Homo sapiens: one gene and its partners. The protein of the gene in region 2 purifies or fractionates together with the protein of the main gene of each other region. This does not show direct contact. Each region holds a gene or a part of one and is shown on either strand. Other genes may lie near its edges. The genes, in order: VTI1B, NSF, SEC31A and SCFD1.

What was found.
Region 1: the proteins of NSF (region 2) and VTI1B purify together in Homo sapiens (affinity purification with mass spectrometry; 2 studies listed by BioGRID and IntAct, with this or other methods). This does not show direct contact.
Region 3: the proteins of NSF (region 2) and SEC31A fractionate together in Homo sapiens (co-fractionation; 2 studies listed by BioGRID). This does not show direct contact.
Region 4: the proteins of NSF (region 2) and SCFD1 purify together in Homo sapiens (affinity purification with mass spectrometry; 3 studies listed by BioGRID and IntAct, with this or other methods). This does not show direct contact.

What each region holds. Positions count from the first base shown.
Region 1 is NC_000014.9:67,664,599-67,671,636, reverse strand, and holds part of VTI1B (vesicle transport through interaction with t-SNAREs homolog 1B), read left to right. Parts: intron 1-7,038. UniProt on the Homo sapiens protein: V-SNARE that mediates vesicle transport pathways through interactions with t-SNAREs on the target membrane. These interactions are proposed to mediate aspects of the specificity of vesicle trafficking and to promote fusion of the lipid bilayers.
Region 2 is NC_000017.11:46,754,658-46,757,991, reverse strand, and holds the end of NSF (vesicle-fusing ATPase), read right to left. Parts: intron 2,679-3,334; coding exon 2,623-2,678; exon of another isoform or gene 2,619-2,622; intron 2,191-2,618; coding exon 2,169-2,190; 3' UTR 528-2,168; downstream 1-527.
Region 3 is NC_000004.12:82,874,153-82,881,190, forward strand, and holds part of SEC31A (protein transport protein Sec31A), read right to left. Parts: intron 6,771-7,038; coding exon 6,647-6,770; intron 4,777-6,646; coding exon 4,578-4,776; intron 1,671-4,577; coding exon 1,575-1,670; intron 600-1,574; coding exon 459-599; intron 1-458. UniProt on the Homo sapiens protein: Component of the coat protein complex II (COPII) which promotes the formation of transport vesicles from the endoplasmic reticulum (ER).
Region 4 is NC_000014.9:30,617,710-30,625,342, reverse strand, and holds the start of SCFD1 (sec1 family domain-containing protein 1), read right to left. Parts: upstream 3,025-7,633; 5' UTR 3,005-3,024; coding exon 2,944-3,004; exon of another isoform or gene 2,881-2,943; intron 1-2,880. UniProt on the Homo sapiens protein: Plays a role in SNARE-pin assembly and Golgi-to-ER retrograde transport via its interaction with COG4. Involved in vesicular transport between the endoplasmic reticulum and the Golgi.

The DNA of each region.
Region 1 (7,038 bases), on a different chromosome or scaffold from region 2:
ATAGTTACATTCACCTTTGTTGTCTACCCAGCCTTTTTCTCCATCCTGCAAAGAGGACAATCAGAAATATGTGAATTTCTTTTCTTTTTTCTTTCTTTTTTTTGTTTTTTTGAGATAGAGTCTTGCTCTGTCGCCCAGGCTGGAGTGCAGTGGTACAATCTCAGCTCACTGCAACCTCCACCTCCTGGGTTCAAGTGATTCTCATGCCTCAGCCTTCCGAGTAGCTGGGATTACAGGCGCATGCTACCACACCTAGCCAATTTTTGTATTTTTAGTAGACACGGGGTTTCACCATGTTGGCCAGGCTGGTCTCAAACTCCTGACCTCAAGTGATCTGCCCGCCACGGCCTCCCAAAGTGCTAGGATTACAGGTGTGAGCCACTGCGCCCAACCACAAAATACTCTAAGTTGCTGGTAACAGACATAGTTGTTTAATGGATAAGTAAAGAAAATATATACATATCCCTAGAATTATAATAAGTCCAACAACTTTACCTCTTATTCACTACCTCATTCACACTGCTCAATAAATGTTTGTTGAATAAATTGAATTTATCTAAGCAAACACATGGTGCCTCATCTCTGAATCCTCTTTTTCTAGTTCAGAGACCACATCATAAAGTTTTCAGAGCTTTAATGCCCATCATGAATTATTAGGCACAGCATAATGTACATAATACAGTCCTTGCATGTAGCTTATGCTCTGTAATTGAATTCAGTCATTTTTCAATAAACACTGAGAATTATTATGTATCAGCCACTGTCTAGGCTCTGAGGACTTCCAGAGTTCTTACCTTAAAAAGAAACAAACGGCCGGGCACGGTGGCTCATGCTGGTAGTCCCATCACTTTGGGAGGCCTAGGCGGGCGGATCACAAGGTCACGGATGGAGACCATCCTGGTCAACATGGTGAAACCCCATCTCTACTCAAAATACAAAAATTAGCTGGGTGTGGTGGCATGTGCCTGTAGTCCCAGCTACTCAGGAGGCTGAGGCAGGAGAATCGATTAAACCCAGGGGGCAGAGATTGCAGGCGACAGAGCGAGACTCTATCTCAGAAAAAAAAAAAGGTAACAAACCTTACAACCAAGTGTGTGATTAATCCTAAAATAAAGTTCTCTGAGACCATAAAAAGGGCTGGACTTGAGCATGGGGAAGAGGGGGAAGCTTCAAAAAACTTCAAACTGAATATAAGGGATTGAATGGGAGTTTGCTAGATGGGAAATGCGAAGAGGCAACACAGGAGTAAAACATGGAATACTCCCAACTCTGGAGCTTAGAATGTATGTGGGAAAGTAGTAGTAGAGGGGCAGGTGAAACAGCCAGATTGTGAGGGGATCTCAGTGTCACATTGAGACATTTGGACTTGATATGGAAAGTCAGTAAAGGACGTAAAGCAGTTGATTGATGTGGATTTTCTTTTAGAAGGAGGGCATTAATGGCTAGACAGGACAAGAGAGAGCACAAGAATCTGGGTACAGGGGACTGTGTTAAGAGCCTTTTGGGCAGTCACCTTGCTAACGGGAATTTGTTTGACACAGGTTCTCACTCCTGTCTCCCGTCATCCAGGCTGGAGTGCAGTGGCACCATCACTGCTCACTGCAGCCTTGGCTTCCCGGGCTCAGGTGATCCTCCCACCTCAGCCTCCCGAGTAGCTGGGACCACAGGTGCATGGCACCAGGCCTGGCTAATTTTTTGTATTTTTAGTAAGGGTCTCCCATGTTATCCAGGCTGTTCTCGAATTCCTGGGCTTAAGTGATCCACCCACCTCAGCCTCTTAAAGTGCTGGGGTTACAGGGGTGAGCTACAGTTCCCGGCCCAAGAGTTGGTTTTGAGGCAGAAATTAACCAGCCTCAATGGATATGAGGAGTGAGGGAGAAAGGTTCCAGGGTGTCTGCATTTTTTCACTTGGTCAACTGGGTGAATGATGAACTTAAGTAAGAAACATAAGAGGAGAAGCAGAGTTTGGGTTGTGGATGAGAATATCAAAGGTACCTGTAGAACAGAGATCATGACATAATATAGCCTTACAAAATGTTTCTTCTTCTGCCATTAAAAATAACATACGGGGGCCAGGTGTGGTGGCTCGTGCCTGTAATCCCAACATTTTGGGAGGCTGAGGCAGGAGGATTGCATGAGGCCAAGAGTTGGAGACCAGCCTTGGCAACATGGTGAGACCTATCTCTACAAAAAAAAAAAAGCTGAGTAGTGTGGTGCTGCTCACTTGTAATCCCAGCTGCTCAGGAGGCTGAGGCAGGAGGATCACTTGAGTCTAGCAGTTTGAAGTTTTAGTGAGCTGTCATCACATCATTGCACTCCAACCTGGGTGACAGAGCAAGACTCCGTCTCAAAAAAAAAAAAAAAAATTATGAAGAAGTATGTGAATTGAGAGGCCATATAGTATAATATTTAACAGCAAGAATTCAAGAGCCAGATTGCCTGAGTTTAAATTCACCTTCTAGTAGCAGTGTGACCTTGGACAGGTTACTTTAACCCAATTAGTTTTTCCTGCCAAATGGGGATAAATCATAGTATCTACTTCACAGGGTTTTTGTGAGGAGTAAATGAGTTAATATATGTAAAGTCCTTAGAATACTGCCTGATAATAGAGCTACTAGCCATTTTATTTAAATGAAAATTAAGAATACCAGCCCTGTATACAACTATTCTTACCTTTTTTTTTCCAGAGTACTTATTTTCTGACATATTAGACACTTTCCACATTTATGATATTTACAGTATATTGTTTGTCTTCCTTTCACTAGGACAGTGGTTTCATTGTGGTCCATGAACCAGCTGCATCAGCATCATTTGGGAACTTGTTAGAAATGCAAATTCTCAGGCCCCACCCCAGACCTATTGAATCAGAAAGTTTTAACAAGCAGTGTGTTTTCACAGCCCTCCAGGGGGTTTCTGATGAAGGCTAAGTGTGAAAGCCACTGAGCTAGAATATAAGCTCAATGTTGTCTTTTTTTCACTGTGTTTCCTAAGTACCAGAACAGTGCCTAGCACAGACTAGGTGCTTCATAGATACCTATTGGATGATGGAATGTGTGAATTGTTGGAAAGAAAATATTGATATATGATTGTGATTTATTTCTATTCTGTTGTCCACATTTTCATTACTTTAAAAATGGGTATATTCCACCTATTAAAACAACAAAAACTGTATTTCTCCAAAGTACAGTCTCCATTCACTTTCTGCCTTTGAATGATACTAGAGACAATGTGTCCTGTTTTAGGAAGTTTTTGTGTAACTGTCCATTACCACTTACAATAATTATTAATCCATTTAATATTTCATTAAATACCTATGGCCATAATTTCTACTCTTGGTTTTACAACCTCTGAAGAGGTCTCTCCAATTACCTCAGAGTACTATAATGTGCTATAATTTCTTAATCTAATCAATGTTAAATGCCTGTGGTCATGATTTCTAGTTTTGGTTTTGTCATACCTGAAGACATCTCTCCATATGTCTTAACGTGTATCATAAAAATATTGAAAGTTTTCCATTTTAAATCATTTAGATCAGTATGTATAACACAAGACCCTATTATTTTCAGAGCCAGAAAAAATAGTCACTATGGAGTACTATAATCAGCTGGCCGATAAACACCAATTACTTACAGACTGTAGAATTTTAACTATTCTAACTCCTCATTTTTTTTGTTTGTTTGTTTTTTGTTTTTTGAGATGGAGTGTTGCTCTTTCACCCAGGCTGGAGTGCAGTGGCGCGATCTCGGCTCACTGCAACTTCTGCCTTCCGGGTTCACGCCATTCTTCTGCCTCAGCCTCCCGAGTAGCTGGGACTACAGGCGCCCACCACCACGCCGGGCTAAGTTTTTGTATTTTTAGTAGAGACAGGGTTTCACTGTGTCACCCAGGATGGTCTCGATCTCCTGACCTCGTGATCCGCCCGCCTCGGCCTCCCAAAGTGCAGGGATTACAGGCGTGAGCCACCGCGCCTGGCCTCTAACTCCTCATATTTTCTACTGAATTTGGTTTTTGCTCTTAGGTTCTTCCTAAGTATTTACTTTCAGAAACAATGGTGGTTTCTATTTATTGAGCCCTTATTATATTTGGCACTTGCTAAGTGAATGTTATGTGTATTATTTCTTTTAACCCTTTCAAACAACCCTTACAAGGTCAGTAGTCTTATAGTCCCTATTTGCAGATGAGGAAACAGGTTGGTTGAGAGGGATCTCTGTTGCTTTTAACTCTTGTATGGTGTGGGATCTAGTCAGCTGTCACGGTGTACAAATAAAGGGTGTAAGTCCTCCATTTTGCCACAGTGAGGCACCAAAAGCAAAGTAACCACATATTTATGAGCTGGTGAAACTGAAGTTGTTTCCACAACTTTAAAGGGCCAAGATTAGGCATTCTTGGGCTGGAAATTCAAATCCCCATAAGGAAGAGAGGCTGCCCACCTTGGTCAAACATTAAGGTAGGCTTTCTGTAGTGCTGTTTTTCAGAGCTGTCTGTTTCCATTTTACTCCATGTCAGCATCCACCCAGTTTCCCAAAGGAGACAGAGTTGGTCCCAGAGAGTCCCTCACATGTGACTGATTTGGGCAGGCTTGTGGGGTGGGGGATAGTGGTATTTGAAGTGGTTCATTCTTGTTCATGGTGCCCATTCTCCCCAGGATGCCACCTTGCTGTTTGTAGTTGATTGTAGCATCAATTCTAACTCCCTAAAAAGAGGAAGAGGTTTTTTGTTTTTTCAACAGATTTTACCAGTTGTTAAAGGCTATACTCTGGGAGCACAAAAATGCCCCTCAGTTGTATACAGTATACAGTTGTTTAATATACAGAAAAGCCTTGGACTGGGAGTCAGCACACTTGCATTCCAGAACTAGTGCTGCCATACATTTGCTGTTCCAATGACTGTGGGGCAGGCACTCAGTTTCTCCAGGGTCTAGTGTCCTCAGTGGTAAAGGCAGGAAGTTAGACTAGATGATCGCTGAGGTACATCCTAGCTCTAGCATTCATTGGTTTCATAATTCTGAGCCTAAAGAATTTTTAAAAAGCTGCTATTGATCCCTCTCAGTTGGGTAGAGATCAGTCTCTTGAATTATCTGCCTCCCTGGCTTTATCATCACAAGAAATGATTTCAAAGGTTTCTGTTTTGTTTTGTTTTAAATCTTAGAAGTCCAGAAAGGATCTCATAAATGTAGTGAAGTTCTGTAAAAGTATGTTGTTATAGAGCACTTATAAGAGGAAATGTGTTTTATGAAATCAGGTAGGAAATGGAATATTCTAGCACACAGAAGTTAGTGAAAGGAGAGAGGTTCTGTGGTCTTCTTCTCCCCCTTTCATTTATGTAGTTACATTCCTGGAATCATTCTAGAATTTGCCTCTTGAGAATGCGGATTTTCATACCCATTAACAAAGGAAGAATAAAGGAGGAGAATTTATGACTAAACACAGTTGTAGAAAAGTCTAGGAAAGGAAGGAGCTAGGAAGGGAATGTACATATGTGTACAGTACTGCTTCTTACTGTCTGGCTTGGATCAGGAGTGAGCATGCCTGAGTTTGGAGATGTGCTGACTCAGAGCAGTGATGATGCTCAGCACTTTTGGGACAGCTTATTACAAAATAATACAATACTGCTCCATGGAAGTAGCCGTTTTTGACTGTCGGTATTATTTCAGTACTGGTAGCTAAGAACACATCCCCCTCAGGAACAGTAATAGCTGCCTTGGTGCTCATTTCAGTTACATCATAGATGGTCAAGAGTCATACCATTTGCCATGGTGAACCTTCCTCTACCTTTTTTTAAACAACAAACAGCCATGGGTTTTGTGAGTGGTATGGAGAAAATTGTCTGAAGTATCTTGTGTATATTAAGGGGGTGGCACACAACAATGAATGAGACATAGTAAAGGGTGTGTTGTCATTTGCCCTTTCAGGCAGTAGCCACATCTAAGGAGGTTTATAGTTCTAGGATCTATGGCACAGTAAAAATGACAAAATAAATTTCCATGTTTCAGAGGAACTTGGTCTCAAGTTGAGATTATAGAATATACGCATCCAAAATGATTTATGGTCACTTAAAAAGTGGGATACAAGGACAGGTGTGGTGGCTCACACCTGTAGTCCCAACACTTTGGTAGGCTGAGGTCGAGGATTGCCTGAGCCCAGGAGTCAAGACCAGCTTAGGCAACATAGTGAGGCCCCATCTCTACCAAAAAAAAAATTAGCTGTGTGTGGTAACCTGCACCTGTAGTCTCAGTTACTTGGGAGGATGAGGCAGGAGAATTGCTTGAGCAGGTGGGAGGATTGCTTCAGCCTGGGAGGTCGAGGCTGCAGTGAGCCGTAATCATGCCACTTCACTCCAGCCTGAGTGAGACTGTCTCAAAAAAAAAAAAAAAAAAAGATATAACTGACATTAGATGCTGTTGTGATTAACAAAATGTAAATCCATATAAAGCATTACAGTGACATTACATCTTATGTAGGATTGGGTTCAAAAGTCAGGGCTTGGCCGGGTGCACTAGCTCACACCTGTTATCCCAGCACTTTGGGAGGCCGAGATGGGTGGACCACACAAGGCCAGCCTGGCCAACATGGTTAAACCCCCTCTCTACCAAAAAATAGAAAAATTATCTGGTTGTGGTGGTGCACTCCTGTAACCCCACCACTCAGGAGGCTGAGGCATGAGAATCACTTGAACCCAGGAGTTGGAGTTTGCAGTGAGCTGAGATGACGCCACGGCACTCCAGCCTGGGCAACAGAGTGAGACACAGTCTCAAAAAAAGCCAGGTCTTAAGATGAAAATCAGAGTAGACAAATCATCTAAGAAAATCTCAGGACAGCAACTGAATACCCACATGCCATTTCTCCATAAGCCCGGCTCATCTGTTCTCTTTTGCAGCGGAAAGGCTGAGGTGGATGGATCACTTGAGGTCAGGAGTTTGAGACCAGACTGGCCAACATGGCAAAACCCTGTCTTTATTAAAAATGTAAAAAAATTAGCCGGGCATGGTGGTGGGTGCCTGTAACCCCAGCTGCTCGGGAGGCTGAGGCAAGAGAATCG
Region 2 (3,334 bases):
GACAAAGTATTGCTCTGTTGCCCAGGCTGAGTGCAAGTGGCGTGATCCTGGCTCACTGCAACCTCTGCCTCCCAGGTTCAAGCAATTCTCCTGCCTCAGCCTCCTGAGTAGCTGGGATTATAGGCATGTGCCACCACACCCGGCTGTTTTTTGCATTTTTAGTAGAGACAGGGTTTCACCATGTTGGCCAGGCTGGTTTTGAACTACTGACCTCAAGTGATCCACCCACCTCAGCCTCCCTCTCGGATTACAGGCATGAGCCACCGTGCCAGGCATTTTTTTTTTTTAGTAAGATAAAATAAGTATAAAGCATAAAGATGGTTGTATATTAACTTTTTCTGATACTCTAATGATGTTTTTAAATAACTATACTTTCTAAATAAGAGATTTTTAAAATAAAAATCATCCCTCATGTTATGCTACTTGTAACAAAACACGGAGAGGTTTCTTTCCTGAGCCCCCTCCTTCTTCCTCCATTCCTATCAGCTGTTCATGTCGTTCTATATGAAACACTGGTCTACAGAACATTTTCAAGTATATTTACTCTTTATTGCATTCCTTCATTTGCATTAAACAATATTTTTTCAATACAGTTTTGGACAAAACACAAAGACATTAAGCTCATTTAACAAGAGACATAAGTTAACACAATGTGTGCTGCTTTCATGAGGAGGAAAGAGGCAAGATCTTAGAGGAATCCAGGATACTGGCCACCAGGAATCACAGGATCTCACAATACAATCCACTTCTTTAAAAGCCACAAAATAAGCTAGGGAAGAAAACCCAAAACAAAGAAGATATGACATCCAAGTCTCCACCAAAAGTATACAAATGGCAAGATTTGGAGATGATCTGCTTTCTCACATGAGGACAAATAACAGAGGAGCCACACCCAAGTGCCACTGTGGCCACAAGCCTCATGGGTGGCGTGTGAGGTAAGCACCTTAGGATGGCTTCTAATTGCTTGTCCTTGCATTTTAAGCAGCAGTTGGGAGAGAGAGGCACACTCCATAAGTCTCATCACCAAATATGACCTAATTAAATTCCTGCTAAGTCAGTCAGTTGTAAGACAAATCACCCTCAAAAGGACTCAACGGGTGCTTCCTTTTGGAAGAAGTGTGTGGAGGGTAAAGGAAATGTGTTCAATGTATTGGAATGGACAATAAAGGACTGAGGGAGAGGGCTAGAAAATGATTGATTTTTCTGGAGAATAGTGTTTTAGACACTAGATAGTACAGATCATTTAAAATAAAGGATAAATTCTAAGTAAGTCATTAAGCTAAGGAAAAAGCAGTGATACTAGTAAGCCTTAATATTATACTAAGGAATTGACCCACTTGGAGTTGGACACTAATTAGTGCTGAGAGGTTTGTAAATTACTTTAATAACTCCTTTCTGTTTGGGGGTGTATGCTTTTTCCATACCTATCTTTCACATGTTTTTAACAACATCTTCTAAGTGGTAATAATGAGCATATCTCTTACCACAGAGCAAATTAGTTATACTTAAGGGGAAGTCACAACCAACACGGTAGTCATCTGACTTTCTATTAAGAAAGATCTTCTGACTGCAACTTGAAAACATCTCTGACAATGATTGAGAACAGCATTTTAGAGATTCAATGCCTTGTTTCTTCAGGCAAAGAGAATACCAGTCTTGTGGGAGACCTTTAACCAAATACCCAGTGACTTTTAGTGTTAGCTCAGGACAGCTGTCAGAGGATCTCTGGCCCACACCTCGATTTACTAAGCCAGATTTGCATGTAGAAAGTCTGCCTTCTAATCGGCCAACTGTTGTCATGCAACATTCATGACACTGACTGAGAGTTTTCAAGGGTGATGGTGCTAGTAGAGAGGTTGAAACGTGTAGTGTCCACAAGTACTGGATGGTTCCCACCCAGAGGGACTGAGCAAGAAGGAATCACTTTAGCCTGCATGGGAAGGTAAGCGCAGCATTCTAAACCAAATTGACACCTTCCACGAGACACTAAGCTATCTCAGTATGCATAAGGAAGGGAGTTTTATTGCACTAATCATGCAGAGCGAGCACATGTTGAAGGTAGAGAACGTTCCACTTAGTCCAGTATCTTGAGTAAGACAGTGAAGATCCTAGGCCATCTTCACCTTGGTCACTTCCCTTGGTCACTGTGTGTTTCAAATAGTTCATTTTCAATCAAAATCAAGGGGGCTACTGCAAAAGAAATACCAAAACACAAAAAAACAGATGAGGGTCCGTAAAAAACTATTCATCAAAAAAAAAAAAAAAAAAATCACTAAAAGCTTCTTAATGGTTATCCTACATTTCCCACTATGCATTTGCTATTAGATGAGCACTTCACAAAAGAAAATGGTCACAGCTCCATGCATGTAAAAGCAGGTTCCAATAAATATGTACCATTAAGTTTTTCCTGCATTGTGACAAGGAAGTTTTGCGAAGCAGGACAGGGAGAGCAAACCAACAGTACAACCAACTTCCTTGCTTGGTCTCTCGGACCTACAACACAGCGAAGAATTCAAATAAATGGAAACAAACTTATCTAGGAAAGCAACTCTTAGAATAGGCACAGGGATTTAACAGGGTGGTAAGTTTGGTTGATGGTCATTAAATGTTGTATGTACTTACGCTCCTTCTTCTCTTAAGAGGGCCAAGAATTTTCTCACACGGTATTCAGGATCCATCTAAATACATCAGAAGAAATGAAGATGGGTTAATGGTACCTTCTAACAACTCTGCACTTGCTTCATGAGAAGGCAGTGTTCGGTTTCACACTTCATCAATGCTCTGCTAGGTCACTGAATGTGTTACCTGCTCCTTGACCAGCATTCTCACACAAAACAAAGCAGATCACATCATTTGGAGGAAGTGAATGGGGTTTTCCAGAACTATGTACACTGGGTTCCAAAAGACCCAAGCCCGCTGGCCATCATAGGCACTTGGGCCAGGCGTGCCCTGTGCTGATGCCTGTGAGGCATCGCTGTGAGACTGGACAGGGCCATTCATCAGAGTTCAAATGACAACCAATTCACCTGTTGAAGGTGTAAAAGGCTACTAAAGTCACAGCAAAGTAGAAGATACCAAGTTGAGGTTAATTCAACAACTAAAAAATAGCTTATTAACTCTACATAACCAACCATGTAGCTTTTCTTAGCCTCAGTATCCGTCATATAGTTTCTTCTTTGTAGTAACAAAGTTGTGCTAAAACTAAAAAAATGAAGAGTACTGCTGATTCCTGAAATCATCTCCAGATGAATCTGGGTCTCCTGTGACTGCGAATGTGTCATGAGTCTAAGAAAAGATGGCGCAACTTTGTTTCAGGTGCTTCGTTCAGGTCGTT
Region 3 (7,038 bases), on a different chromosome or scaffold from region 2:
CCGGGCTTGATGGTGCATGCCTGTAATCTCAGCTACTCGGAAGGCTGGGGCAGGAGAAGTGCTTGAACCCAGGAGGCAGAGGTTGCAGTGAGCCGAGATCACGCCACTGTACTCCAGCCTGGGCGACAAAGCGAGACTCCGTCTCAAGAAAAAAAAAAAAAAAGTTGCTGCAATGTTTTAAAACAGCTAGCAAAGCAAAACCACCAGTATATCATGGAATAAGTTCCTTGATTAACCAATCTCTCTTCATCATTAATAATATCCAACATATTTATTGGGAATTTTATGATTTTCCCTTAGAGGAAAAAAAACAAAACATTCCTTCTAACATGACTGATTAATAAAAAAACAGGATTTGACTTCACAGAAATTTGATTTGTTGTCAACTCTGACAAACAATATAGGAATACCTACAGCAGAAATACAACATGTTCATCACAAGTCAATCACATACTTACTCTGTTACTATGGTCACTGACTTTGATGATTGGCTCATTTTTTCTAAGATCCCATACAGTGGCCCGGCCACTGGGACTGGCTGATGCTAAAATATGCTGAACTTGTCTGTTCCATGCAATGCAGCTGATATCTTCTGGCGGCTACAAGGAAGAAACAGTTAATAAAAACTGCTTGTTTCTCTATTATAATCAAATTTAACTGTAAAATTGGATCCTTCATTTTGAAAAGTGTATTACTTAAAAATCTGATCCATTTATGCCACAAATTTGCTTTATAGTCCTACATCTCTACATTCTCAACACATAAAATTATATGACTTAAAATGCAGGTACATACCACTTCAAGTGTATTATCTTGTTTCATAATATCTCATTCAACAAGAATTTTATTGAATTTCTGCTATAAACCAAGTACTGTTTCTTTACTTTGCAACTGCTGCAAGGTAGATTATGGACCACAAAGTAGATGTTGGTGACTATGACAGAAAACTAGGCAGGGCAAAATTACAGCCTAGACCATTAGCAAAATACCTTTATAAATGGTAGTGCATATGCTGTCATTATGCTACCTCTCAGATTGCCAAAATGTTAGAGCCAGTTACAATGGCTACTCAAGTTGGATAGCCTATACAACATAAAGAAACTCAGGGAAGAACAGGAGAAGACTGTTGTTACCAAACTTAATAGAAATACACAAGCAAAGGGCTTGAGGTATTTATTTTAAACCTTGTCTTCCATGGTCTTGTCTAAGTGTGTTTTAAGAAGGTTGGTTGTTGCCAAAACACAGAGCAACTATCACACAAAGAACAAAAATAATTATACTATATCTAAGACAATTATTAAGGATTTTTGTTCATTTTGTTTACTACTGTATGCCTAGTACAATGACCAGTGTCTACCAGGTGGTAGGTACTAAATAAATATTTACTCTTGATGGACTCACTGATACTTTGAAGAAACATATTTATTAATTACTGAAGAAAAATCAGTAATATCTAAACAATGATTTTAAACATATATGTTTTGTGTGAGAAGCCTTAAAAGTGAAATAAGTAGGTTTAGGAGAACTACTTTTGGCTTTTTTGATTACAATGATCAAAATCAATATAAAAATACCTGTGTTTTGGCTCCTGGTGTCATTGGGGTTGCAAAATTATTTAGATCCCATATGTAGATTTCAGATTCATTAGCACCAGAAGCTACCAGATTAGTCTGCAAGAAGAAACCATAACTAAATAGCACTTATGAATAATTAAGAAAATTCAGAATAACTCAGTTCAGAGCTAGAAAGATATTAGATGTAGCATACACAATTTTTCTATTTAATTTGAAAAGTGAAAAACATATGCATGAATTTCTAAATTATGCATAATTCTTTCAAAATTTAAAGTTTTCTAGAAAAACATAAAATTCTACTTAACAAAGACAAAAGATGTCTACTGAGAACAAATTAATTTTAATGCAAGATATTATTTTAAAAATTATATGGATAAATTCTTTTTTTTTTTTTTTTTTTTGAGATGGAGTTTTGCTCTTGTTGCCCAGGCTGGAGTGCAATGGTGCAATCTCAGCTCACCACAACTTCCGCCTCCCGGGTCCAAGTGATTCTCCTGCCTCAGCCTCCCGAGTAGCTAGGATTACAGGCATGCACCACCACTCCCGGCTAATTCTGTATTTTTAGTAGAGACGGGGTTTCTCCATGTTGGTCAGGCTGGTCTCAAACTCCTGACCTCAGGTGATCCACCTGCCTCGGCCTCCCAAAGTGCTGGGATTACAGGCGTGAGCCACCAAACCTGGCTGGATAAATTCTTAATCAGTCATGCAACCATGTGAGGATTACTGTTTGTATCTTTGCATCTCTGGAAGGAGATTTAATTATAAGATTAAAAAGGTCATCAATTATTGCTTTCAGAAAAAGCTGAATCCTAAAACTGTGGCATCTTTCTCAGGATACCTCAAAGCCAGCTTCCAGAGCTGAATCAATACAGCACTAGTAAAATCTCTTGTCATAACTCTTCACATATTTCTAGTTCATATACACTCAATCTTATTCCAGGTGGCAATATTTCTAGGTTTTCTCTGGTACATACCTTAAGGGTCAAAAAGAACCTGAAATTGTAATATAAAGTACAGGAAGATAATGGGCTTCATATACTGACCTTCATCCACTACTATTTACTCTTACAAATTATTCTCTATCAGTTGGCATATAACTAAAAAAAGGGAGACATTCTATGGTAGTAGCTACCTATAACACAAAATACTTTATTAAAAATCATCAGCTGTTCAATACAATTAACAAAGGAGTTAGCTAAAGAGCAGATACCACAAACTATAGAAACGAAGGCTGGGCACAGTGGCTCATGCCTGTAGTCACAGCACTTTGGGAGGCTGAGGCAGACAGACCACTTGAGCCCAGGAGTTTGGGACCAGCTTGACCAACACGAAAAAACCCTGTCTCTACAAAAATTAGCCAGGTGTTGTGGCTCATGCCTGTAGTCCCAGCTACTCAGGTGGCTGAGACAGAAGACTTGCTTGAGCCCAGGAGGTCAAGACTGCAGTGAGTCATGAGCCACTGCAGTCCAGCCTGGCAGAGGGAGCAAGACGCTGTTTCAAAAAACAAAAAACAACAACAAAAAAGAAATAAACAAGTTGGGTTTCTGTATTGCTATACCCTAAGTATCTATTTATAATATAAGAAAAGGAACTATTTAAAATTTTCTTAATACTCATTTTTGGTTGTTATAATCTAGTATCCTATTAACTCAAGGTCTTTTTTTTTTTTCCAGACAGGGTCTCTATGTGTCACCCAGGTTGCAGTGCAGTGGTGTGATCATAGCTCACTGCAGCGTAGACCTCCCAGGCTAAAGCCATCAACCTACCTCAGCCTCCCGTGTAGCTGAGACTACAGGCGTGTGCCACCATGTTCTGCTAATTGTTTGCATTTTTTGTAATGACAGGGTTTCACCATCCTGTTCAGGCTAAGATCGTTATTAAGCTGTGCATTTATATAATTAACAACCAGAAATGTTTATGAAGGCAACAGTACAAAGAATCTTAATTGACTATTTGTTAAATCTGCATTACATTTCTTTTTTCTTTTTTTGAGTTTTGCTCGTTGCCCAGGCTGGAGTGCAATGGCACGATCTCAACTCACTGCGATCTCCGCCTCCCGGGTTCAAGCGATTCTCCTGCCTCAGACTCCCGAATAGCTGGGATTACAGGTGCCTGCCACCATGCCCGGCTAATTTTTGTATTTTTAGTAGAGACGGGGTTTCACCACGTTGGCCAGGCTGGTCTCGAACTCCTGACCTCATGATCTGTCTGCCTCGGCCTCTCAAAGTGCTGGGATTACACAGGTGTGAGCCACATGCCCAGCCATTACATTTAATTTCTAATTATTTCATAGAGTATTAATCTCTGTCATAAACATAAAATTTCTCAATTAATAAAACAGTGAATTAACCTGGACATCACAGCACCAGCCTAATGCTGACCTAGCATGAACTTTTAAAAGGCAAGGTTTCCAACCTATAGGGATCTTAATGTTTATAAAATGTCTAATCAAATGGCGTGACATCTTCAGACTTAAACCTATTAGCCAGCTGGGCACAGTGGCTCACGTCTGTAATCCCAGCACTTTGGGAGGCCGAGGCGGGCGGATCACAAGGTCAAGAGATCGAGACCATTCTGGCCAACATGGTGAAACCCCATCTCTACTAAAAGTACAAAAATTAGCTGGGCGTGGTGGCAGGCGCCTGTAATCCCAGCTACTCGGGAGGCTGAGGCAGGAGAATCACTTGAACCCAGGAGGCAGAGGTTGCAGTGAGCCAAGATCATGCCACTGCACTCCAGCCTGGTGACAGAGCGAGACTCCGTCTCAAAAAAACAAAAACAAAAACAAAAACAAAAACCTATCAGCCGGATCCTTTTCATGGAGGTAGTATTTTTAACCCTGATCTCAACTCTGAACCCACCATTCTTTAAACAAACACTCGTCAACCTGTATAGCCACAGTTTTTTAACTTTCAATTCCAAAACTGAGGCATAGTAGATTCATATACTGATTTCAAATGAGCAGCACATAGTCTAAGAATTATGAAATGTTAAAGTCTTAACCTGGAAAATGTTCACATCCAAGGCTCTCACTGGGCCAGTATGCTTGTCATTCTGGGCAATCACAACTTCCTTGTCTCCAGCTATAATTTTAGAAGGATCATAGAGAATAATATTTCCATTTTCACCACCTGCAATCAGAACTCCAGAGACATCTCCTTTGGAATCCATTTTATAAGGCCCCCAAATCAACTTGTGGTACCTACAGGAGAAAATGAATAAAATCATTCATTCTTAAAGTCAAATAAATGTAGACAAAAAATTGAAATTATACACTTAATTTTTAATGTTTTCATAAACAATCCAAATATATTACTTTCCCACCACTCCTGGTAACTATGTATGACTTTGGTGTAATAGTATTTCATTTTTTATTTATACTCATATTTGCATATGTGATTTTGTAATCCTTAAAGAGTAAAAACTCTTGTAAGGTAGTGTAACAAAATATACTTGAGTTGTGTGTCAAAAAATATGAGCTTAAGAATGATTTTACCATTTAGAAACTGTGAGACCCTAAGTTACTTAATCTTCTTAAATTGCCTCTGGTTCATTGTAAAATAGAGCTAATCAATCACTTCCCTCGAAAGGTAAAAACACTCTTTATTTGACTATAGAAGGGTCTCATGCTTTGACCTTTGTCTGAAAAAAAAAAAAAGGGGGGGTCACTAACAAGTGGTCTGTTAAATAGTAAAGGTGTTAAAGGAGTCATGTGAAATTTTCTAAGAAAAAGAATGTATTCTAATGGTAGAAAAATGACATCAAGATTATAACAAGTACCCCTACTATTAGAGAATAAAATATATGGTCCAGAATGGAGATGAAATATGAAGGCAGAAAGGTATACGATGATACAGATGGTAGTAAGCAGAAAAACTACTAGACAAAAGGTATCTGGGGTTCCCATCCCACTGTGACAGCTCTGAAGAATATGAGCGGTCCCATGAAACTGCATGATTTGAGCTATATTCTGTCAGCTAAAGAGCAATCTCTTTAAACCCTGCTAATATATTGAGGCAATAAAGCTTATTTTATTACTGAAATGAAGACCTCCTTTCTCTGCATTACAATAGGGCATAAGTACTTGAAAGTATGATCCAAATACCTAGTTACCTAGTGTATTAGAAATCGTGTCAACAAAACTGTGAGATATATTTCTAAATATCGTAACAGAAGAAAATAAAAATAAGCTACCATTCAGAGATAATCACTATTAATACTTACGATGACTACTCCTTTTCTAGTCACATCTACCTTTTTGTAAACAGGCACAATAAAGGAGATAGAAAAAAGAACTCTATACAAAATTAGCCAGGCATGGTGGCACATGCCTGTAATCCCAGCTACTCGGGAGGCTGAGGCAGGAGAATTGCTAGAACCTAGGAGGCAGAGGTTGTGGTGAGCCGAGATTGCGCCATTGCACTCCAGCCTGGGCAACAAGAGTGAAACTCCATCTCAAAAAAAAAACAAAAACAAAAAAAACCACACACACACCAAAAAAACAGAAAAAAATGCTAGAAACTACAGCCTCTCCTTCCTACCTTACATGTAACAGCAATAAAAAAGCCAACAGAACATACTGGCCAAGCGTGATTCCTCATGCCTATAATCTCAGCACTTTGGGAGGCTAAGGTGGGTGGATTGCTTGAGGTCAAGAGTTCAAAACCAGCCTGGCCAACATGGCAAAACCCTGTCGCTACTAAAGACACAAAATTAGCTGGGCAAGGTGGTGTGCACCTGTAATCCCAGCTACTCGGGAGGCTGAGGCACAAGAATTGCTTGAGCCTGGAAGGTGGAGGTTGCAGTGAGCCGAGATCGTGCCACTGCACTCCAGCCTGAGCTATGAAGTAAGATTCTGTCTCAAAAAAAAAAAAGAAAAAAAAAAGTCAATAGAACACATAAACACTACTTTTACTTCCATAAAAATTCACTCACATGCTTTTTCACAAAATATTTCATGTTCTTGATGGTATTCCTTGTAGTTTCTAATAATGGCATAATTATAGACAAATTAGGAATCAAGAACAATATATAATTAAATAATCACATGAATTTAAAGCTGAACCTCATACCTGTGAGAAGAGGAGAATGTGGCACAAGATTTCATATCCAAGGATGGATCAGAGAGGTCTAATTCAAATATCTCAAGGGAAGCATTCGTACTAAATGTTGCATCCAATTGCTGAGCAGATGTTCCTATAGAAAATATATTTATGGTAACTATACACACAAAAATAAAAGATCAGAGAAACCATACAAAACAGAAGTTAAAAGCATGTTTTCCATTCTCTTGCTCATGAATGCTGCACATATGCCATTGAGCAGATGCTTAAATTACTATAGCAATGAGATTCTGGCACAGGGCTAGGAGAGGATGTTTATAAGAGTGGGTAGTGTAAATAATTTTTTAAGCCTGTATATATTTAAAAATCTCTGTAAAAATGGTCCCGTGATGGGGGCTGGG
Region 4 (7,633 bases), on a different chromosome or scaffold from region 2:
GCAAATATTCCAAAATCAAAAACACTCCTGGTCGCAAGCATTTTGGATAAGGGATACTCAACCTGTATCCATATTCCTAGACTTGGTTAATGTCATTACTTACATACACACTATTCATTCATTCAACACGTTTGATGAGTGCTCACCACAGGCACTGTAGTTATTGGGGATCTAGCAACTGAACAAAACAGTGAATAAAATCGCCTGTCCTCAAGTAGCTTTCATTCTAATTGGGGGATAAAAAAAATAAAATAAAAAAAAAGTAAAACATATGGTATGTAGATCATGGTAAGTGCTTTGAAGAAAGGTAAGATTGGGAAAGGGGAAGATGGAGTTGAGGTGTAATTTTAAACAGAATAATTGGGGAAAGCCTCCTGAGAAGGTAACATTTGAGTAAAGACCTAAAGGAAGTGAGGGAGTGAGCCATGGAGATTATCTCTGAAACAGTACTCCACAAAGAAGAAACAAATACAAAGGCTCGAAGGTGGGAGCATTCCTGGTGGGTTCAAGGAGAGGGAAGAGAAATAGGGAGTGAGGTCCAAAAGCTACATGGAAACCAGATCGTATAAAGCCTTGTAGAACACTGTAAGATCACTTTGGCTTTTATCATGGTTGAAATGGGAAGATGCTGGAAGATTTTGAGCAAACATATGGCATGATCAGTTTGGGTACTGTGTGAAAAATAATGAAGGAGAACAGGATTGTAAAAGCAAAGAGACCAAATAGGTTACTGCAGAAATTCATGGTGGACAGGACCTCGGAATAGCAATGACAACAGTCAGATCCTGGATGTATTTTCAGAGTAGAACTGACAAGATTTACTGAAAGATCTTACATGAGACATGAAAGAGACAAGTCAAGAAAACTTCAAGGTTTTTGACCTGAACAACTAAAAGGACGGAACTGCCATTAACTGATATGGAGTAGACTGAGTTCAGATGGGACGGCCAGACTAGGGATATAAACCTGGGAATCATCAACATACAGATAATACTGAAAGCTAAGGCGCTAGATGAGAACACTAATGGGACCCTGCAATGTTGAGAAGCTGGGAAGATGTGCAAGAACCTGTAACGAAGACGCATTCAATGAAGAACAACAGTAACACGGAGCAGGAGGCAACTGATTCTACCTATTGAACTGAAGGTATGGATAGAGGGGACAGTGAACCAGGAAGAAAGGAGATGGCTTGTGGGATGACCTTCAAAAGATCAATAAAGATTTTTCAGGAGACCAATAAAGATTTTTCAGGCAGGCAAAGCAAGAAACAGGCACGTTAGTTTACCTCTATCTTACTTTCCTCACCTGTAAAATGGAGATAATACATAATCACCTAATGCAATGCCTAACAATAGTAAATGCTCAATAAATGCCAACTATTATCTCATCCACCCAAATATTCTAGTATCTAGAATATTTAAGGACTGTGAGTTATCTCCCAAAACATTCTCCATAGGCATGAGGGAAATAGCTAATTCTGCATTATAATATATATACAAGGATTTACCTTCCTCTGAAAATAAGGCAGAATTCAATGACAGTAAAAATTTGATAAAAAATAGATCTAGCACTACCTAGTAATTCTGTAAAATCTTACTATGTTTATTTCTGCAGAAATACAAACGATTAGATTTTAATGATCTACAAAATTTCTGCATACAAGTTTACGGCCACGCAAATTTATTTTTCAAAAAGCTCTCTTGTATTGGTACAGTTTTACTGACACGTTATTTTAATATGTAGTATAGTCATCAGAAACACAGTATTAAAACAAATGGAGCTTCCATTTGTTTAAACATATACAACGAATGGCAGGTATGCCCCAAATCTTATTTGAACTTCCCTATATTTAGTTATGCCTGACTTCACCTGATAGGTTATACTAAATTATTTACTGGGAAAAGCAGAACGCAACTCAGTATCTTTTGTGTGTCATTACTAAATTGAAGTCTATCACTTTTTCTTTAAATGCCAAAGGAAGGAATCAAGTACAGCCCAAATCCCTTCTGTAGGTCATATGAATTATAAATTTATTTTCCTATTCATATTTATATCCAACAGAGCATAATTTCAGGAAACAGAATTCCAAGTATGCACATTCTTGATGCCTTATTTCTATTAGCTCCTCAGAATAAATTGCTTGAAAACTTTTAAGACAACTAGTTAACAAGTATAAACCTTTAGTTTGTAGCTAACAGGTATAAACCAAGTTGTCATGAGAAGTTTTCAAGTAAGGCAAAACTAATTTCTAAGACGGAAAAAAACCCAAAACTCAAGAGAAGAATATGTGCCTTTTTACATTTCTCTGCATAAATAGAAGCTATATAAACATGCTCTATTGAAGATAAAATATTATTTTAAAACAATGTGTCAAACAATTAAAATGAGAAAGCTATTAATTCATTTGTTTTGCCATTCTTCAATGCCTTCCAGCAAGCTGAAGGAGAAAATGTTTATCACCAGGCATTTTTCTGCAGGTACCCCCAAAAGACTGGTCCGAAGTAGAGAAGTGGCGCAAAGCAAGCCGCTGTGAAAATACCTAAATTCTCTGAGTGTCAGAAAATGGGAGTTCTCTTAAAAATCAAAACCAGGAGAACTGAACCACGCACAGAAACTCGGAGACCTCATAGGTGGCAACATAGATAAGAAGCTATCAGCTGCTAGATCTTGTTGTGATGGCCTTCTGATGCCCACTAGGAAGGAGACAAGAGCAGGGCCGTAGCAATCCGCCCACCGCTGAAGCTCCTTCTCCTGCACCACAGGAGGAACCGAGTCCTCAAGCTAATGGCAACTTCTCCCCAAAAACTCAAAGGGGAGGGGCTCTTGATGTTCTAGGGACTGGATTAAACTCCTGGAGATCGGTCTCTGAGCTGCACGCACCAGAGGAGAAGGATGTCGTCGGGGCAGTCACGAAGCTTCAAGGAGAAGAGAATAAGTCAGTACCTGTCTGCCTTTCCCGAATACTGGCTGCTGCTGCTGCTGTCGCTGCCGCCGCCGCCGCCATCTTGGCTCCCACGAGCCACTGCCCGGCTGGGGAGCGGAGCGGGGGGATGACGTGGCTGCCCTTACCGCCCCGGAAGCAAAGCCCGGAAGGGCGGGGCCAAAGGGTGTGCCTGAGTTCCGGACCCCACCTCCTCCAGGAAGACCTCCACTCTCGGTAGAACTGGGAGACCCGGTGCAGGTTAATTCAGTGGCCCGTAATGTTAGGCGAATACTAAGAGTTTTTATCCTACCGAATCAAGCCACACTCTCTCAAATGGTAGCAACATTAAATTGAGCTGTTAGGGTAGGAGCGTGTAGTGCTAAGAACCTAATTACTGAACTGTTGGTTTGGTGACTTACAGAGCACTTAAAGGGTGATAATGCTCTAGGAGTATAAGGACCACAGGACTGAAGTAAATGAAGCTCCTGAAACACAGGCAACATTTTAACGTTAGCTCTCGTTTCTCAGTGCAGCAGGAGTCTTCCCTTTGCTCCTTTCTCCAGAGAAACGGAAAGCATTGGAGCATTACTCTGATCTGGCATATTTCTCAGTCGCATCTCTTTAAAAAAAAAGGTGTAGCTTTATGGTGGCGTTCTGCCGGCATGGACACGGGATCCAGGGAGGTACAAAATGAGAAATTAGCATTTCTCCTCTTTCCTTGTAGTAATTGCAAAATCACCTTGCCGTGGGAAGGAAGTCAAGCAGTAGTGGGGTGTGTTGCCTAGGCTGGAGCGCGCAATCAGGGATCACTGCAGCCTCAAATTCTGACGGTCAAACGATCCTCCTGCTTCAGTCTCCCAAGTAGCTAGGGACTACAGGGGCACACCATCAGGCCAGGCTGATGTGCTGGTTTTTGTTGTTGTTTTGTTTTTGAGATAGTATCTCACTGTCTGTCGCTCAGGCTGGAGTGCAGTGGCAGAATCTCGGCTCACTGTAGTCTCGACCTCCCGGACTCAAGCGATCCTCCCAAACTATCCTTCCACCTCAGACTGCCCACTAGTTGGGACTATAGGCAGGGGTCACCACGCCCGGCTAAATTTTTTTTTTTTTTTTTTGTAGAGACGGGGATTCACCATGTTGGCCAGGCTGGTCTTGTGCTGGCGGTTTAATGTACACTTGAAGCCACGTGACCGCAAAATATATGGGATAGATGATTTCTAACTTAATCCATAGATTTTACTGTATGACCAAAATGGATACACAATGACACCTCATTTCCCGAGTTCATTGATGACGCTTCATTATGAAGTTGCACCAAATTCTGAAATGAAATCACTCTGTACCTCAAAAGCTTAACTTTCACAATTATATAAATGAAATGGTTAGCCTAACGATTATATATTGTTTTATAGTGTGAAACACTGGCTTTTTTCATTAATAAAAATTTATTTTTGTGACATTTAAAACAGGTTATCTTATTACATAATCTCTGCCGGGTGCGGTGGCTCACGCCTGTAATCCCAGCACTTTGGGAGGTAGAGGTGGGCAGATCACCTGACGTCAGTAGTTCGAGACCAGCCTGGCCAACATGGTGAAACCCGGTCTCTACTAAAAATACAAAATTAGCCGGGTGTGGTGGTGGGCGCCTTTAATCCCAGCTACTGGGGAGGCTGAGGCAGGAAGAACTGCTTGAACCTGGGAGGCGGAGGATGCAGTGAGCAGAGATCGCGCCACTGCACTCCAGCCTGGGTGACTGAGTGAGATTCTGTCTCAAAAAAGAAAAAAAAATTATGTAATCTCATTTTTATAGCTAATTGGCACATTCATTAAGAAATTAACTGGAATACATGTGTGTCTTCAGTACTATTACTAATATTTTGAAGGAATCTTCAATGATCTAGGTGTGTTCCAACTAAACAAATTATTTCTGCCCTATGGGAAAGTTCTACTGCATTCTACAGTCTCTATGAAATATAAAATGTCTGAGAGCCCAATTTTGCTCATTTGGGTACTTCCACTTTCAAATGCAAATCCATCATTGAGCCACTTCAGTTCCATCACAGATTCTCTCCCAAGACTATGAGTCATGTTAAAACCACGAAGACAATTTTAAAATTGATGTACACTGCATATATATGAAATGATAAAAACTCCTGACCAAGTGCACAGAATGTGGGCAATAAATTTATAGAAAAATACACCTCACAGAAGAACAGCAACCATAGACAAATAGCCCTTGTAAGGCTGAGACTGAATAAGGTATTTGTTTTATTAGAATCAGAAAGACTGAAAATAATCTATGGCTACAGATTGTTCATTAACCTAATTTACTATAGCCATTTATCTGAGTCCAGATTTTTGGCTTAAATAATTTATTCTGGTAAGCTATTTTACATTAGAGGATACATAGTTTTAACACAGATTCCCTCATTTCTATAGGTTCCTGGGTGTCAGACACTAACTGCTTGCTTATAGGATCTCTCAAATGTGGAGAGTAAAGGAATCTTGTATCTTTCAGTTTCGTCAGAATCTTAATCTTATTAAATCCCAAAAAATTACTTAGTTTAAATAGGCAGTTTACCTTTAGTGGCATAAACACATTTATTTATTTATAAAACATTGTTATAAATGTCACGCTTTTTGGTTAATCTGGCAGTCTTTAAAAGGGGGGGAAATAGGCTGACATATAAACGATCACCTAGCATAATACCTGGCATAGTGTAGGTACTGGGATATGTTTATGAATTAGAAGAGATAATGGTCAAAATCAGAACTTGAAAACTGAGTCTCTTCAAGACAATCCAAATTTTCCTAAACCACAGATAATATACATTCAAGTAATTCATCATTAAATGGGTTATGTTTTGTATTGCATTACTTGAAGCATGAAACTTTGTATTGCATTACTTGAACCATAAAAACTAGTTTAATAGCTTATTTTAAAGTAACAATGCAGTACATGATAATCACTATATAAAAGAATTACATGTTTATAATGTAATGATTTTGTTCTGATCATTTTCTTATAATGACTGAATGCTAAAGGCACAGTCACTGAAAAAACTTACCTAATATACTCCCCTTGACTTAGTATTTAGCACTGAATACAAAAGTTCCAATAGCTTCCATATAATTAGGGGAAAAATTTACAAATGCATAAAATAGAAACCAAGGTGAATTCTCATGCTGGTAATCAATCAAAGGCTTTTTACTTAACCCAAACAAAAAAAGTCACTTCCTCAAATTACAGAAACTAAAAATTACAAAGTATAAAATTGTAAGTTTCTGGTGAGATATTTTAAAGAATATCTTGAATAGTAGAGAATTGTATAAAAGGTGTTAAAGTTTCCATATTGGAAAGTGTTTAAAAACAATGAATATCAAACTAACCAAAACCATTAACAGTAGATGCATTATAGATCAATTTATAGTTTTCCTCAACATTAAGAGCAAGAGAAAACAGCCTTAAAATATACAACATTTAGGCAATTGCAATATTTAAGAAATATATGTACACATTTATAAAGATTTATAGCATAATTCTTTTTTAAAATCTAATGTAAGAATTATGCACTGGTTATAAAATTAATAAGAAAAGAACAATTATAATACCAACCATTTGACAAAATGACACTGCAGAAAATAAATAACCTACAGGTTTCTCTGATATTCCTTGACCATACAGATTAATCTAAAAATGGTAATAATGGAACATCCTTCAAACTAGAAAACATTTTGCAAAATAAATATTTATGCTTCACTTTAAAACATGAATATCCTAAATTATTTACACCATCTTATCACTAAGGCCCTGTCTATATATAAAATAAGTCAAATGAGGAATTGAAATACTGTTTTTAATTGTAGCTAACCCAAGTACACTGCCTCTCCACCTGCCACCCCCACCCCAACAAAGTATGTGTGTGTGACTTAATCAGCTTTAATTTCTACCCTAGGGGAAATTAATTGCAACTAAAAACCAGAAAATAGCTTTAACTAGGTTTTATTGGTTTGTATTGGTTTTTAGCTGTAATAAAAATAAGGTGGATAAAGAAACAAATATCTTTTTATCAACATATTTGGAATAAAAACTGTATGGTGACTTTGGGGTTTATATTAGCTATTCAAACTCTTTGATAATTGATCTTTCAATTACTATTGGTGAGACAAAAAAATTCAACCAAAGCCAAAGAAATGTCTTGTTTAATGTTCTTAAATATTTCAAGTTAAAGTAAAACAAATTTGCTAGGTATGTTAGTGTACAGATTGAAAAAGACATGAGGGAACAAAGAAAAGTACACTAGAATTATGTTTTAGTTTTCCTTTGGTATTAAGAGATATATTATCTCTTTCAAATCTATTCTGTTACTTAAAAAATATCAATAATGTAATGATTTTTCTTAAGAAGGGTGAGAATACAACAGCTGACACCTGCTTTGTGTATTAAGAAAAATATGGTTAAAACATTTTACTTCCCATAATGATTTACTTTCATGGAAAACTGAACCATTATATCATTTAAATATGTTAATAGATTAAGGACATCAGACTTTGTTTTCCAATTTTTTCTTCTGTGGGAGTATAAATATGGGGACATGACTATGGGACTATATATTTTCACATTGTTAGCACTTTGTTAGTACAGTTACTTTTAGGTATTGTCTTTTAGTAGCATTATTAAAGTTAAAAAATAAAGGAAACAGAAGTAAA